Linked DNA regions of Homo sapiens: region 2 is linked to region 1. Evidence: fine-mapped expression QTL. Tissue or cell type: esophagus mucosa. Region 1 holds a variant in brackets; the other region holds the start of a gene. All regions are shown on one strand. Distances are between the middles of the regions.

Region 1 (8,174 bases):
TGCGGTACTTGACACCTGTTGAGATCACTGCTACAAAGGCACACACCTCTTCACTATAGGAAGACCACTCTCTAAGACCCCCACCATGCTGTGAGCTTTGCTAATTTGCTTATGAAGATGCTTCTACTTGGAATTCTGTCTTCCAAATTCTGACCTAGAGTTTAGCCACCCATCACCCATCCAACCATCCATCTATCCATCCATCCATCCCTCCACCATCCATCCATCCATCCATCACCCATCCATCCACCATCCACCCATCCATCCATCCATCACCCATCCATCCACCATCCACCCATCCATCCTCTATCCAACCATCATCCATCCATCCATCCTCCATCCATCCATCCATCCATCCTCTATCCATCCATCCATCCATCATCCATCCATCCACCCATCCATCCATCACCCATCCATCCACCCATCCATCCATCCATCCTCCATCCATCCATTCATCTATCCATCTACCCATCACCCATCCATCCACCCATCTATCCATCATCCACCCATCTCCTCTGTGCCAGGCCCTGTACTGTACAGGGACTTAAGGACCAAGGATGAAGCCAACCTGACTCCTATTCTCAGGGAGCTGTCAGGTAAGTGGGGAGTCAAACGTATAGGTAGACATCATAGACAATGACAATGCAATGGGCCAAGTGAGATGACAGAGTGGGGTGTGTTCGGCCATGTACCTTACAGGTAAGACTACCAGCTTTGGTCTTGAGCACCTGAGTTTGATCCTTACCTGGGCAGGTACTCATGGTGTGACCTCAGCTGTGTGGCTTTAATCTCTGGGCTTTGGTTTTCTCAGCTATAAAATCAGAGATTAAAAAACTCTAATATCCCAAGGCTGTTGTGCCAGTAGGTTGGGACAAAGATTCATGGTGGGTCCACATGTCCTGGTAGGGGTCTCAGAGAATCAGAATTGGCCAGTCACTGGCTCCTTCCTGGCAGACCTATGTAGCCAGCTGCTCTCACCTGATGGTATACAGGCTGTTCTGCGGCAACCAGGTTGGGCAAATTTCTGCTGACAGGACGATTCGTAGATTGATTCAGAGTTCACTGAACTTCCAGGGCTGGCCCAGTGTCCTCACTGTGTCCTGGTCTGGCTAGAATGACCCTGCTCTGGGCGGGATGCTTGGCTGGGGGAAGGTGAATGAGTCAGTAGCTGCTCAGAGGCCCTTCTGGGGCCCGCCACTCACCAAGCCGAGCCCCTGCCCTGGGCCAGCCCCAAGTATCCAGTGACACTGGAGGACATCAAGATGATCAGACATTCCCTGACCCCAGGGAGCTCCCAGTCTGGTGGACAAACCATGGGCCCATCTCATCCTTTTAGCATGTCCATATTACCCCCAGTGACTTCCACATTGCTAGATGGCTAGTGGCTACACTTTTGTCCCCATCGCCTGTAACCTCTCAGCTGCCTCTGGCCCGCTGACCTCTCTCCTTTGGGGCCCCTGTGGCGAACGCCATGCTCCCGCTCAGAGGAAGACTCCCGACCGTGGTTCCAGCACTCCTCGGCTGCCCTACACCGCCTCAGGGAGGAGGAAATCACCCCACTTCCCCATCTTCCCCCAGCCCCAGTGTGCTCCCCAGCCCCATGGCCTACAAAATAGCAAACAGCTGCTGTGACCAGGGCTGCCCAGACCCCAGGGGCCAGGGGGGAAGCGGGCCAAGGGGAACTTGGAGAAAGAGCTCTTAATAACATACCTTCCCCAAGCTGCTTCCAAAGAAACTTCTCCTCACAAATCATTCCATAAACACTTAGCAGGCTCTCAGGAAAGCGTGCACAGCTCTCACCCGGCTATTAGGAGGCTCCTCACAACTAAATTGAGACCAGGCAGCAGAGGCCTGTGCCAAATCCCCCTTTCCTGCCCTCTTCCCACATGGCGTCCTCCCCCCACCCTGGGCCCTTCAGTTCCAAGGGCCAAGGTCTCCTCCCCTGCTGCTCCGGCCTCTCCTCCGGCTCTGGCCCTCTCTCCCTGCTGAGCTCAGGGTGCCCTGCTTCCCTGGAAACCAGGCCCCCTCCCCAGCATGGCTGCTGGGTTTCCAGAGAGCTCTCCTGGGCCACTATGTAGAGCTAAATCCTAATGAGACTTCTGAGGGCCACACCACCAGGCCAGGCATGGACAGACTGGGCCAGCCCACACCCCCACTCTGTCCCAGCCACCCCTCAGCAGAGGCTGCTGGTGCCTCTCAGGCTGGGGCTGCTCAATAGGGAAATAACTCCAGGTTCATCCAAGTCACAAGCTAGAAAATCCCTCCCATCCAACAATACCCCTCCAGGGAGAGTGTTGTGCAACCCACTCAGCTGGATAATATCCAGCACTTGGCTAATAGCCAATGGGGATCAGGGAATTGCCTGATTGTACGTAGGTTGACACATTTGCTTATAGGTTAGCAGCTCACTTGTGTAATGACTTTCATTAAGGTCTTGGAGAACAATAGTAGGAGCTGGCACCCCAGTCTAGCTCTTCATCATCATAGGCTTTGGAAAACACTTCAAGAATGATCGCCCCTTTTTCTAGGTTTATCCAATATCATTTTGAAGAACAAAAGCCTCTATTGTAAACAGAAATCATGGTTGAAATAAATAAAACATTCAGATGAAAATAAACATGAAGATTTGTGGGCACTGAAATTAGCAGTGGATGGGCTTTGAGAGAGGCAGGGCCTGGGCACAGATCTTGGATCAAGTCCCAGCCACCAGTGATTGGAAGGCTGATGATGGGCAGGCCCCTGTGAACGTCAGTTCTTCAACTCTAAAATGAGGATAAATCTTACCTATCTCGAAGAGCTGCCGGGACCAGCTCCTCCTGCTCCACCACCTCTTCACAGGAGGTCAGTGGAGGGCCTCCCAGGGAACCCAGAGGCTGGAGGCCTTGCCACGGCACCAGGCCTTCTGCTTCACTCCAGGAGTTCAATCACAGGTCACTCATTCAGCCTTTCTTCCAGCAAACATTGAGGAAGCCTCTTCTACACACCAGGCACTGAGCGAGGCACCGATCAAGACAGACACAGGCTTGCCCCATGAGGAGCAAGCAGAAAAGGAGGACAAGCACGAAAGGACAAGTGCTGACCTGCAGTCACGGTAAGAGTTACAGTGGCCCGAGTCAAAGGACTGAATGTCTCCTTCCACAGGGCAGGGAATCGGACTCCCGGCTCCAAGCTGCCCAGAAACAGAACTCCAGGCCCAAAGGCGCCCGTGAGAAGAATCAGGCTTCTTGTGTGTTGGCTGTAGTGGGAGAAAGAATGGAAGGAGAGGGTCTAGACCACTATGATGATGATGACGATGAAGGTGAAGGTGGTGGTGATAGCCGCAGTTCGCAGAGCACCCACCTAGTGCCAAGCACCATGCTTTACTTTCATTGCGGATGATCCTCACCACGGATGGGGCACCCCATCTTTACTAAAAATACAAAAATTAGCTGGGTGTGGTGGCGCCCACCTGTACTCCCAGCTACTCGGGAGGTTGAGGCGGGAGAATCGCTTGGAGGTGGGAGAATCGCTTGAACCTGGGAGGTAGAGGTTGCAGTGAACCGAGATCGCACCACTGCACTCCAGCCTGGGCAACAGAGTGAGACCCTGTCTCAAAAAAAAAATAAAATAGGGCTAATCATTCTTACTTTATGAGCTTAAGATGTAATTACAGATGGGGCACTGCAGTTCAGAAAGGTGATGTGAGTCATCCAATGTCACACATCTTGGAGGCAGAAGGGGCAAAATGGAAACCCAGGACTGTCTGACATCAAGAAAACATGGCAGTGGGCCCCTTCTCCAGACCTGAAACAAAAGAGTCACCTCTGGAAACAGTGAAGTGGGCACCACTCCGCGTTGTGTGATCTGTGGAACTCAGGACAGACCCTGCAGCCTCTTCCAAAGCCAGTGCTCCCAGATGTTGGGACCTGAATATCCAGCCCTGGTTCCCTGCCCCTTTGCACCCACCGTTATCCTCCTTA[G/A]ACATCTCCGTCTCATATACATCCCCAGGGAGGCTTTTTTTGGGTGGAGGTCAGGGGATGGGGTCTTGTTCTGGCACCCAGGCCGGAGTGCAGGGGTGTGATCACAGCTCACTCAACTTCCTGGGCTCAAGTAATCCACCTCAGCCTCCCCAGTAGCTGGGACCATGGCCACGAGCCACCATGCCCAGTTAATGTTTTTATTTTTCGTAGAGACAAGGTCTCACTATGTTGCCCAGGCTGGTCTTAAATTCCTGGCCTCAAGGGATCCTCCCACCTCAGCCTCCCAAAGTGCTGGGGGTTACAGGTGTGAGCCACCGTGCCCAGCCCCTGGGGACTTTTAAGTAGCAATCCCTCCATTCAGCAGTGAGGTGGTGCTGCCTGTCCACCTGCGTGCCTGTCCTCACATCGCCTGGCTCAATGGGCCCTAGACTGCCCACCTCTCTCCATCACACCTGCCCTTTCCCTCCCCAAAGCTTTGGCCTGTCTTCTTCTAATGGACTCCTACCTATTCCTCAAGGTTCAGCTCAAACTCCACTTCTTACCAGAACTTCTGATTCCTCACCTTCCACGAAGGTGACACAAGAGAGGAGAAAAAACACTAGTTATCACCTTAGAAAACCTAGCCCTAGCCCTTACCTAATGTGCCACAACTGTGAACAAATCACATTTCCTCTCTCTGGATCAGTTATCTTAACTATAAAATAGGGCTAATAGGCCAGGCTTGGTGGCTCAGGCCTATAATCTCAGCACATTGGGAGGCCGAGGCTGGTGGATCACTTGAGGCCAGGAGTTCAAGACTAGCCTTGCCAATATGGAGAAACCCCATCTTTACTAAAAATACAAAAATTAGCCGGGTGTGGTGGCACGCACCTGTACTCCCAGCTACTTGGGAGGTTGAGGCGGGAGAATTGCTTGGAGGCGGGAGAATCGCTTGAACCCAGGAGGTGGAGGCTGCGGTGAGCTGAGATCACACCACTGCACTCCAGCCTGGGCAATAGAGTGAGACCCTGTCTCAAAAAAAAAAAAAAAATAGGGCTAATAATTCTTACTTTGTGAGCTTAAGGTGGTGATTAAATGAGGTATGAATATAAATGCTCTTTATAAACAACAGAGTGCACCGGGCATGGTGGCTCACGCCTGTAATCGCAGCACTTTGGGAGGCTGAGGCAGGCAGATCACTTGAGGTCAGGAGTTTGAAACCAGCCTGGCCAACATGATGAAACCCCATCTCTACTAAAAATACAAAAAAAAAAAAAAAAAAAAAAAGAAGCTGGGCATGGTGGCACCCACCTATAATCCTAGCTACTTGGGAGTCTGAGGCAGGAGAACTGCTTGAACCCAGGAGGCGGAGGTTTCAGTGAGCTGAGATTGTGCTACTGCACTCCAGCCTGGGTGACAGAGCAAGACTCTGTCTCAAAAAATAAAATAAACAAAAAATAAACGACAGAGTGCTAAAGCATATGATTTATAATCAACAATCTCATTGCCACATAAAGTGACAAAAATTGGCTTAGTCAAAAAAACAAAGAAGGAAAAGAAAAATATTAAGTCATCTAACTGCAAAGTCCAAGGGCATGAGAGTTTCAGGCATGGCTTTATCTAGGGGCTCAAATTCTGCCCCCAGGACCTGCTCGCTCCATCTCTCGGTTCTCCTGGTTCCCATGTTGGCTTCATTTTTAGGCTCCAAGTGGTGAAAAGATAACTATAAAATTAACTTCCAGGTTCAGGTCCAGCCAAAAAAAATTTTGTTAAGAGTCCTCCTTTGTCAGTAGACCCAGCAAGCATTCAAATATGTAACCCATTGCTTCTAACGGGTCGTGAGTCCATCTGTGAACAAGTCCTTGTGGCCAGGAATATGTGAAGCTCTGACTGACGGGGCCTATGTCTCACGGCCAGCTCTGGAGCTCTGGAGTTGGGGGTGGGGACAACACTATCTGAAATATAGGAGCCAATGAGTAGGGAAGAGTGGATGAGAGGAATAATTACCTTAGAGCAAAAGCAGAGTCCTGCCACCAGAATAAAAGGGGAAAGGATGTTGAGGACAAGATAATAACTGCCCACACAGTCCACCCCTTTGAGGGCTGACATTTATGCATGCCTTTACTTGCACACAAAATAATACCTTCCCACTTCCTCCCCTCTCTCAAATAGAAGACAAATCAGAGACTCATAATACTGAGTTCAGAATCTCTGGGTGACTTATATTATTTTCCTTCAGAGTTAGATGTATTCTTGAGGTCTTGCAATCTGTGGCTGAAAGATTATCCCTCCAACAGACCATGACTCCATAATGGCAGAGAGAATTGGGTAACTGCAATAACAATTCCTACTGAAAAGGGAGAAGAAAGGAAAGCAGCACACGGCGCTACCAGTCCACAGCATTCACCAGTTCCTGATGAACAGGGACAGCAAAGTCTTCCTGTCCTGGGTGGAGAAATGAGTTACTTGAATGGAGTGGTAGGCAGAATATGCTCCCCACCCGAAAGATGTCCACAGCCTGATCCCTGGAGCCTGTGCCTATGTTATGTTAAATGGCAAAGGGGAATTAAGATCACAGACGGAAATCGGGTGCTAGTCTGCTGACCTTAAAATCAGGAGATAATGCTGGATTACCTGGTGTGCCACTGTAAGCACAGCGTCCTTGAAAGTGAAAGAGGAGGCAGCAGAAGAGTCTGTGTCTGAGTGATGGGAGGCAGGAAAGACTCAATCAGCCATCGCTGACTTTGAGGAGGGAAGGGGGCCACTAGCCAAGGAGTGCGGGCAGCCTCTAGAAGCTGGGAAAGGCAAGAGAACAGGATCTCCCCAGAGCCTCTGTAAAGGAGCGCAGTTCTGACACTCTGATGCTAGCCCAATAAAGTACATTTTGGACTTCTGTCCTATGGAATTGTAGGGTAATACATTTGTGTTAAGTCCTTGAGTTTGTGGGAATTTGTTACAGTGACCATAGTGAGACAGCGACACAGCAAATCCCACTACCACGATACTCCTTTTGTTCCCACTGTTATGCCTCCGGCTGGGAATGGAACAGACACTGCCACTTTTGGTCCCCCTAACAATCTTGGGAGAAGGTGTAATCATCCTTAGGTTACGGATGAGAAAACAGAGGCTCAGGTAACAGACAACTGCTAAAGGCAACCAGTTAGTGGAAGAGGGAGCCAACAGGCAAACCCTCGCCTGTCTGACTTGGAGCCGGGCTGGGGTCCTCATATAACTTCCTCGCCCAGTGGTCCTCTTATCTCTGCTGAAACCCTCCAGCCACAGAGGCTCACACCTTGCAAAGCCCCAGGCCTCCCTGCTCCCTCCTGGCCTCATGCCTTGCATGACCTGATGGATGGTGGCTAGAATAGCCAGTGGAGGGCGGCCAGAATGTCAGACTCTGGCCAGTCAGCGGGCAATGAATCCAGGACACAGTTGCCTTGTTGGTGGGCCCAGGCTGAGCATCCCTACTCACGGGGAGCAGGTTCTGTTTATCAAAATCTAGACTTCTGCCCTCCTCTCCTGCCTCCAGCCTCCACGCTCCCCTTGGCTGAACTGGGTTTTGGAATGCATTGCTTTGTACTAAATGGAGAAAATGTGGAACCTTGTCTTTCAAGATTTATTCTTCTCTGTGCTGTCACCTCCACTCCTGTCTAATCCTGGAATGTCCCCGGGGTGGGTGAGGTGAGGGAGGGCAGCTATGGCTCCTCCGATTTCTTCCTGACAAATGTAAAATGGGCCAGGGGGGCCACAGGGGAGGTAAATCGATCCCAAAAAGTGCCTTGTGTGCAATTTGGGGATGAGAGAAAGTTCATGTAGAGATAGGGCTCCGAGGATGCACCCCCAGGGGCTGGCCTGGCCAGCTGATGACCAAAAACAACTGCCTCCCTCCTCCCCAACACACGCAACCCACACACAGGCCCAGGCTTACACCCCCCAACTGAGTGGGAACAGTCAAGATCCCAGAGGCCAGACCACAAAACCTAAACACAGACTCCAGAGGGCAGATGAGACCCAGGGGAACGTCTCCTCTGACCTCTTCATTGGCCTAGAGAAGGGAGGTGCCTTGCCTAAGGTCACATGGCAAAGCCGGGACTACCGCCTCATCAAGCCTCAGTTTCCCAGGGGTAAAATGCAGGCCTGATGAGAAGCTCAAGTGAGGCAGAAATTGCTAAGTGAATGTGACAGGGAAGTAATTACAGCCCAGCAAGGATTGGGAGCAGTTTTCTTTCTTAATGC
Region 2 (8,063 bases), 66 kb before region 1:
TCCTTTCCCCGTGTCTCTTTGGGCTTTCCTGGGCCCCACCTCATGCTGGTGCCCATGTGGCAGGGAGGATGGAGCAGGACCCCAGGCTCTAGGCCACCCAGGCAAGCCCAGCCTCTCCCCAGGCTTCCGTCTACTCCCCTGGGGCAACCTTGGGGAAGCTCTCCCTCCACGACTCCTCAATTAACTCTTCAATTAGGCACCAGGTCTAGGAACCGGGGAGAGGTCTAGGAACCTCGGAAGTGCCCCTTCTTCACCAGCCATCCCAGCTTGGGGCTGCAGCTGCCCGTTCAGGAAGAAGAAGCCCCTGGGGCCCCACAGCCTGAGAGTCCTCCTGTTCTCTCCCTCCTGGGCTTTGTCCCAGGACTCCAGAGTGAAGAGGGACTAGTCCAGCCCTTGTCCTCACTGTATAGATAGAGAAATGGAGGCTGATGAAGGGCCTTGAGCCTGCAGATCCAGTCCTGCCTGGAAATGACACTGGGTCCCCTTCACACCTGACTGCCCAGACCTCAGAGATGGAAGCCTGTCCCCTTGGCCTCACACATGCTGACCCACCTGTGCAGCCCATCTTGCAAAGGTAAAGCCCTAACAGGCCTTGGTCTGATGCTTCTCAACCAAGAAACCAAACGGCAGCTGCCACAGCATCATGAACTCCCACTGTGCAAGTGGGGAAACTGAGGCCCGGAAAGGGCAGGGCTTGCCCAGATCTGTACGCAGCCAATCAGAGGCAGAGACAAGCTAGACCCCAGGCCTCCTGCATCCTGAGGTAGGGCTCCTTCTACCTCTATCTTAGAGCTGAGGAAACTGAGGCTCAGAGAAGCTAAAGCGATTGACCTGCAGAACTCAGGCTGGGCCTTGCAGTCCCAGTCTGGCGCTCCTTCCACCCTACTCTGCAGCGCCATGGCCCTCTAGAGCCTCCTGGCCCCACCTCCGTGGGAGTGGCAGGTGTGGGACTGCCCAGGGAAGGGGGCGGCCTTTATGGATGTTCCCAACCGGCCTGGGCCTTTCCTCTCACCCCACCGCTTCCGTGGTTCACAGGAGAGTGGGACTCCCCTCAAACCCTCCCCCTACCCAGGAAAGCCAAGAAGGGGGTGGACAGCCCAGACCTGGGACCCCGAATACTTGAGGGGCTGGGAGTCTTCTGGTGCCTGGCCTGGGTGGAGGTAAGGTAGGGAAGGATCCCCAGGTTATTTCTGGGCAGGTGCCTCTATGGGCAGCCAGGTTCTGATCCCCTCTCCCCAGCCCCCATCCCACCAGCTCAGCCTGCGTCCCAGGCACCCACCAGGTGAGCATTCCAGGCCACTGGGCCATGTTGGCTTTCAGTTCCTGTGCCAAGTGCCCCTTTCATCTCCAGCTCACTCTCCAAAGCCCAGGCCAGCGGAGGCTCCTGGGTGAGTCCCCGGCTTTCCAGCCTCACTGAACACTTCCCTGCTCCCAGCTGTGCTGGGGCTCCCTGTGCCCAACAGTCCACAGAGCTAGGCAGCTTAACTCAAATCCTGCCTCTACTACCTCTGAGCTGTGACACCCTGCTAGGTAGAGTCCCCCATCTCTGTGTGCCCCAGTCTCTGTTTCCTCTTCTGTGCAACGGGGGTAATAGCAGCACCCACCTCACAGGGTGGTTGGGATATTTAAATGGAACAATATACATAAGGCACTTAGAACGGCACCTAGCACAAAGTGAGGCCATGTGTGTGTAGACATATATGTACATATACATAGATATATGCACGTGGCCTACACACGTGTATCTATATATACACATGCATACACAGATCGTTGTTATTCTTAAACTCCACCCCTTTTCCCACCTCCCCCTCTATCTTAAACTCTAGCAAGACTTTAATCCCCTATTGCTAGACTATCAGTTTCTCATAGGAGTGCAGTATGATCTAACTTACATGACCCAAGCTCTCGGAGCAGCGTCTGGGGCACTTAGGAGTAGGCTCTTGTGGTGCCTGGTTTCTCCAGGTCTCCCCGCATGCGCTGTTCGGCCTCCAGGCTTCTGCTCGTGCTGTGCCTCCCGCCTAGGACGCCTGCTTTGCACTCCGTCTCTGACCATCCAAATCCTCCCTGTCCTTCCAATCCTGGCCTATGCATCTCCCTTAGATAGAACTGATCACTCCTCCTCTGGGCTGCCATGCTCCCTCTGCTAGGACACAGACCATAGTCCACTTTGTATTTCTATATGTCCATCTCCCCCAAGAGCCTGGGGGCTTATTTAAGGCACACAATGAGTTGTACCCATTTCTGTGGCAGCCTGACTTTGCAGTGGGGACAGAGGACATGGACGTCAGGTTTAGCCAGCCGTCCATCCCACCACAGGCCAGCGTGGGGGCTTGCGTGCATCATGCCCTTTGCAGGGTCTCGGTGTTCCCACTGTGGAGCAGGGATGATGGCAGTGACCCCACAGGACTCTTATGGGCGGCAAATGACACCCAAGCCCACTGCAAGGCCTCTGACGCTCCTTCAGCCAATCCTCTCCTTCCCTGGACCTTAGTATCCTTATCTGTAAAATGGTGGCGGTGGATGAGAGAGCTTGGACTCGCTGATCGGAGGTCCCTGCCAGCTGGAACAGTGCTGGGTACCCCATTGCAAAAGGAAGGTGGCTGGTTTCTCACAGAACTCCTCAGGGACAGCTGGGAAAAGCTAGTGCCCAGGGCTGGGAGATTGCTGAGACCAGGCTTCTTGTAAACAAGAAAGGCAGGAAGACGGGGTTCCCTCCTCGAATCGTCAATTAATCAATAACTTGGCCTGAGAAGGGGCAGGGCCAGTGACCTCCAGACTGTTTGCTGGCGGCGCAGCCACTATCACCCTGTCTTCCAACTAATTCACAAACCCTTTGCAGCGCCCTCCCCAGCCCCCACAACCTGCCCCCTGCTGTCTTATCTGCAGGCTCCCTGCCCTGGCCCCAGATTCCAGACCCTTGTCCTGTCCTGGACTTTCCCTCTCAGGGAGCCCCTCTGCCCACAGCGTCCTCTCCATTGCCCGAACCAGCCAACTCCCAGCAGCGCTTCAGTCACCAGAGGCACAGCCTCGGAAAAGCTTCCCGGTGTCTCACATCTGTGTCCCCACCAGGTGGGCTTCCTTCCTCTAGGCCTCCAGATTCCCGCTCTGGTTTCTCCTCGGGCACTTGGACACTTGTGGAGTTATTTACAGCCTGGGCTTATCTCTCTCAACTTAGAGCGCAGCTCCTCCGGGAAGGGGCTGGTGTTTACTCCTCTCTTCACCACCCCCAGCCCCCTGAGCAGGCACTCCCTTCAGCTCGGCACCAAGCCTCTCTCTCCCTCCTACCCCTGCGTGAATAATTTCTATCTAAAGGAATGCCCTGCACATGTGCACAGTGGCATCTGACAGCTTCTGAGGTCCTTTCAGGAGCCTCTTCTCATCTGATTTGAGGGAGGTGGGGAGTCTCACCCTCCCGTGACAGAGGAGGACAAGGAGGCCCCAAGAAGTAGAGTGACACTTTCCCAAGGTCGCCCAGGTGGAGGGGTCAGGAGTGTCTCAGCGGAACTCCCGCTAGGGTCAAGGAGACTGACGGACAAGGACCGCTCCTGGGCTGGCCGCTCTGGATTGCGCCCCCTGAACAGAATGTCTTTTTCCATCTGCCCCTGCGGAGGTGGCCAGAAACTCCGTGGCCCTTGCGCCACCGTCAGCTGCACAGGACCAGGCGCTTCCATTGTGGTCCACGCCCGTCTCACTCCCTTTTCGCAAGCCTGCGGGAGGCAGGGACATTTTACAGAGGAGGAAACAGAGGCTGAGGGATGACTTGCCCACGACCGCCAAGCCAGCTTAGGCTCCCGGGTCTTGGTGCGCTCGCCCCATCCAGGGGACCCCAAAACGCCCTCCGCCGCCCCAGTCCCTGGCCTGTGCGCGTGGACGCGGGGTCCCTACTCACAGCCACTTGATGCCATAGCACACGCCGGTCTGGAGCGCCAGGGCGAAGAGCAGCGCCTCGCAGACCTGCGGCCGCGCCCTCATCGTCGCGCGGCGGGCGCGCCCGGGGTCACACCCAGGAGGAGCCGCGCCGAAGTCCTCCGCCTGCACGGCCGCCGCTGGTCCTGCACGCCGCCTGCAGCCGGGGAGAGCGGAGGCGGCGGGTTAAGGCGGCGCGCGGGCGGGGGAGGCGTTTTATTCAAATTACAAAGGAGGGGTCGGGGCCCGGGGAGGCCGAGCGCGGCGGGCGTCCCCTCCCGCTCCGCCCGGCCGGGGGACGCGTCCCGCGCCTGGCTCGAATTAGGCGCGGCCGAAGGCGTGTCTCCCAGCGTGGCCCCGGGCCCCAACGCGCCTTCGAGCCCCTCTGGCCGGGGCAGCCGGAAGGAGGGACAGGAGGCGGCAGAACCGGAGACCCAGGAGAGACCGGGCAGACACAGCGAGAGGGAGAAGGACGCTCAGAGGACAAGGCTGAGAGCCACGGAGACAGAGGGGGAAACCCGGACAGACGCAACCTGGGACGGAAAGGAGAGGAATGAGGAATCAGGAGTCCAGGCGAGGCAGCAGAGTCGAGGACCCGGAGCTGGGGCTTATCCCTGCAATATTGAGCATTAGTTAATAGGGCCTCGGCAATTCTCCTTCCCAAACGTGTTTCAGTTTACCTCCTCAGTAAGCTGGGGCAATTCGGGCACAATTCCGCTTTTATAAAGAACGTTCCCTGGCCGGGCAGGGTGGCTCACGCCTGTAATCCCAGCACTTTGGGAGGTCGAGGCGGGCGGGTCACCTGAGGTCAGGAGCTCGAGACCAGCCTGCCCAACATGGCAAAACCCCGTCTCTACTACGAATACAAAAAATTAGCCGGGCGTGGTGGCGGGCGCCTGTAATCCCAGCTACTCGGGAGGCTGAGGCAGGAGAACCGCTTGAACCCGGGAGGCGGAGGTTGCAGCGAGCGGAGATTGCGCCACTGCACTCTAGCCTGGGCGACAAGAGCGAAACTCCGTCTCAAACAAACAGACAAACAAAAAAAGTTCCCTAACACGATCGCATCTGCTCCTCCCAGCACCCCGTGAGATAGGCACTATCGCTGCCTCATCTCACAGATGAGGAAACTGAGGCACAGAGGTGGGGTTCAGCTAGGGAGCGGCAAGCCGGGTGTCCGGCGAAATCAGGAAATGGGGCTTGCTCGGGGCCCTGCTTTCTCGGTGTGGGAAGGGGAGGATGGGAAACGGGATGGTAGGGCTCTTTGTACAGTGAGGATTCCGAGTCTCCAAGTCCGTCTTTAGCCGCTCCACTTTGGAGGGTGGGAGTGGAAGCATGCGGGCTGGGACTGGGCAGCCCCGCCTTAGCGAAGCGGGGAAGCTCGCGGGGCTGGCGCGGTGTTGCCTCTGGCCTCCAGGCGGCGCCCTCGGGCCGCGGAGGAGAGGCTGCCCCGCCCGCCCGCAGCCCGCGGAGCAGCTATCTCCGCTTTTTTTCTCCTTCACTTCATTCTCACCTCATTAACTCCCTTCCCAGCTTCTCCCAAATTTACCAACACCTGGCGTTCGCCCGGAGTCAGACACAGCCCCAGCCCCTCTCCCCTCGGGAGGAGCAGAGACAAAGGGATTCCTTTCTAAGGGTTTGGGGAGTTGGAAAAGGAGGCGCCCACGGTAGTGGGGGCGCTGGAGCAGAAAAGGGACGTTCTTATCTGGCTCTGTGAGCTTGGGCAAGCCCTCAGCCACCCCAGCCTCGGTGTCCCCTTCCATAAGAACGAGGAATGGGGCTTCGCCGTGCGTCCCCCGAGGACCCCGTCTCCCTGCAGCCTGCGGGGCTCAGCGCCCCTCTGCTATTTGCACCGCGACGCCACCTGCGTGGCGCGTTCCTGCGCGTGGGTAGTCAGCACGCAGAGATGGGAAGCCCCACTGTTTTCTGGAGCCTGTCGGCAAAACCCACAGGAAGGCGAGGAGAAGCCTGGATCGTACAGTTTTTTTCCTCCGCAGAGCCCCGCAGCTAGCGCCCAGCACAGGGGCGCCTGCGACAAACATGCCGTCAAGGCTGGGGGTCTCAGAGGGGTTCTCGGTGTAACCCAGTCCCGTCCTCCCACCCAGCCTGTATCCAAATCCTTTGTCTTCCTGGTCCTGCAAGTTTCTTGCACTTCTCAGAACGAGAAAAATATCCGCTGGATATGGAGGGGGGAATCAAAACTCCAGTCACCGTCTTCCCCTCTCCCAAAGTGCGCCGCCCCCCGAAGGCACCCGGCATTCCTGGGTGGGGAGGGGGCGGGGGCTGCAAGAGGACGGAGGCGCGCGGACTCACAGCGGGGGATCTGTGTCCAGCCTGGTCTCCCAGGGAGAGGAGGAGCCCCCTAGGTCGCACAGCGGACGGGGACCCAGGCCTCCAGCCCCGCCCAGCTCTTTCGGTGCAGCCCCGGCTGTCCCAAGGCTCTCCCTCCGCCGCCCAAGCTCGTCGCGCGGGGAGGCAGCGCCTGGCCCGAGCCTCTGGGTCCTGACGGACTGTTCCTGTCCCTTGTACGAGCGCCCGGGACAGCCGCGCAGGCCACGGGGTCACCTTCCGCCTGAGCTCGCGGGTCAGGGTGCACGCGCCTCCTGAAGCCCCCAGCCCGCCAGGGGGCGCTAAGCCGGGGCTCGAGGAGGGGGGAATCGCGGCTGCCTCCTGCGTCGCGGGCTGGGGTCAAGTCCTCTTCCTGGGCCCCCGCTTCTCCGTCTGGGGATGGGACGACGTGTCGAGGGAGTGCCCCCTGTGTCCTGGTCGTTCTATAGGACACTTGCCGTGGGCCGCCCTGACCTGCCCGGCCCCTTGCTTGGGGCCGGGCGCGTAGTGGGCCGCGCCAGGCGTAGCACCTTTGGAGAGCGAGCGGTCACCTCCTCGAAGTTGGTCCGAGCTACCCTGCCTGCAGCGGGCCCGGGAGGCGGCCGCCTGGGGCTGTGCACAGGGAGAACACCACGAGCGCAGCGCCGCAGCCCAGCGCCGCCAACAGATGGTCATAGGCCCGGTCTGTGGAGGACTCTGGAAAGCCGGCCGCTGGGACCAGGCCACGCCGGCCCGGCGAGGACTTGCGGGGTCCCCCCTACCCCGACGCCCCACGGGCACCGTGCACCGGGGCCGATTGTCCGCGCGGCGCGCAAGGTCGGCACGGGCGGGTCCCGAAGCCTCCCGCCACGCAGCTCACGGAGCTGACCCCGCCAACCAGGGACGCCGAGCGACGGCTTCAAGGTTACCTGCGGGGCGGGGCGAGGCCGGGCCTGCCACCCGGCTTTGACCCCAGCCGTGAGGCTTTCGAGAGACGTCTGCTTGGCTGCGCACGCGGCGCCGGGTCACCCGGGAGACGGGTTGTTTTGGAAGTGGGAAGGGTGGGTGGGAGCACTCGAGATCCCTCCTGCTAACCCCCTGGAGCCGGACCCTGCACGCCCAGGGCCTTGAGGGACACCGAGGCACTTCAGCCCCGGGGGTGGGAGGCGTGGAGCTCGTGCGCGAGCTCAGCCAGATGTTCCGGGCGGTTGCAGATGTGCCTCGGGGCCGGGGACAGGACTTTCCTCCTCCCTAGCCCCCAGCCTGGAGCTCAGGTCAGTAAACAAACTCGGTTCTCCCCCTCCCCCCGCCGCCCCTGGGACCCGTTCTCAAAGCCAGGCTTCTGCCCCCATCCCCAATTTACTAGGCGCTGCCGCATTTCTTTGCCTTTTGCCACCCTTTCCCCCCGCCCACCACACACACCCTCTGTCGCGGGATCCAAGTCCCCCACCCCCGGGGGTGGCTCGGGCATGACCTCATCCGCCGAACGACTGGGAAGGAGGGGGTCGCCTGGGGTGCGGGGGCAGAAGAGGGGGGCCGGGCCGGGAAAGTTCGAGGAGGGCCGCAGGAACTGCACAACCCACCACCGTCCCGCGTGCCCCTAAACCCCGCGTCCCCAGGCTCCCGAGGCTTCGCTCCGCAAAGGGGAACTCTTCGGAGTGCTGCGGGGGAAAGGTATGGAGGAGCGCTTGGTTTGCTTACCCGGGAGTGGGTGCCCAAGGGGGTCGTGGCGGGTGCGAGAAGCGTCGTCCCCCTCGGACTCGGGCGCCCCCAGCCCTGGCGGGTCCCCGCTGAGCGGCTGCCCGCTGCCCGCGACCACTGCTCACCTCCCGGGGCGCTCGCCAGGCGCG

Direction of the effects. Alleles are on the strand shown, and positions count from the first base shown. SD is a standard deviation of normalised expression in the study named.
For the expression in esophagus mucosa of the gene that starts at base 4,070 in region 2, allele A in region 1 goes with a higher level than allele G (large effect, 1.5 SD a copy in GTEx).

The links. PIP is the estimated chance that this variant, and not a neighbour inherited with it, causes the effect.
Region 2: it holds the start of WNT11, and the variant in region 1 is fine-mapped to the expression of WNT11 in esophagus mucosa (GTEx, PIP above 0.99).

Annotation. Positions count from the first base shown.
Region 1 is chr11:76,268,328-76,276,501 of GRCh38, forward strand. No RefSeq gene overlaps it. Among named protein-coding and RNA genes, the nearest start is that of TRP-TGG2-1, 37 kb to the left of the region's middle. The variant G/A (reference allele first, on the strand shown) is at 3,960.
Region 2 is chr11:76,202,433-76,210,495 of GRCh38, forward strand. WNT11 (Wnt family member 11) reads right to left here and starts at 4,070. Exons shown (of 5, transcript NM_004626.3): 1 at 3,893-4,070. The coding sequence starts at 3,975. It overlaps LOC112268079 (a long non-coding RNA gene), which reads left to right and starts at 7,395. Exons shown (of 2, transcript XR_002957259.1): 1 at 7,395-7,487; 2 at 7,833-8,063. RefSeq lists silencers at 3,983-4,222, 5,203-5,422 and enhancers at 4,527-5,194, 6,529-7,195, 6,814-6,863, 7,196-7,862.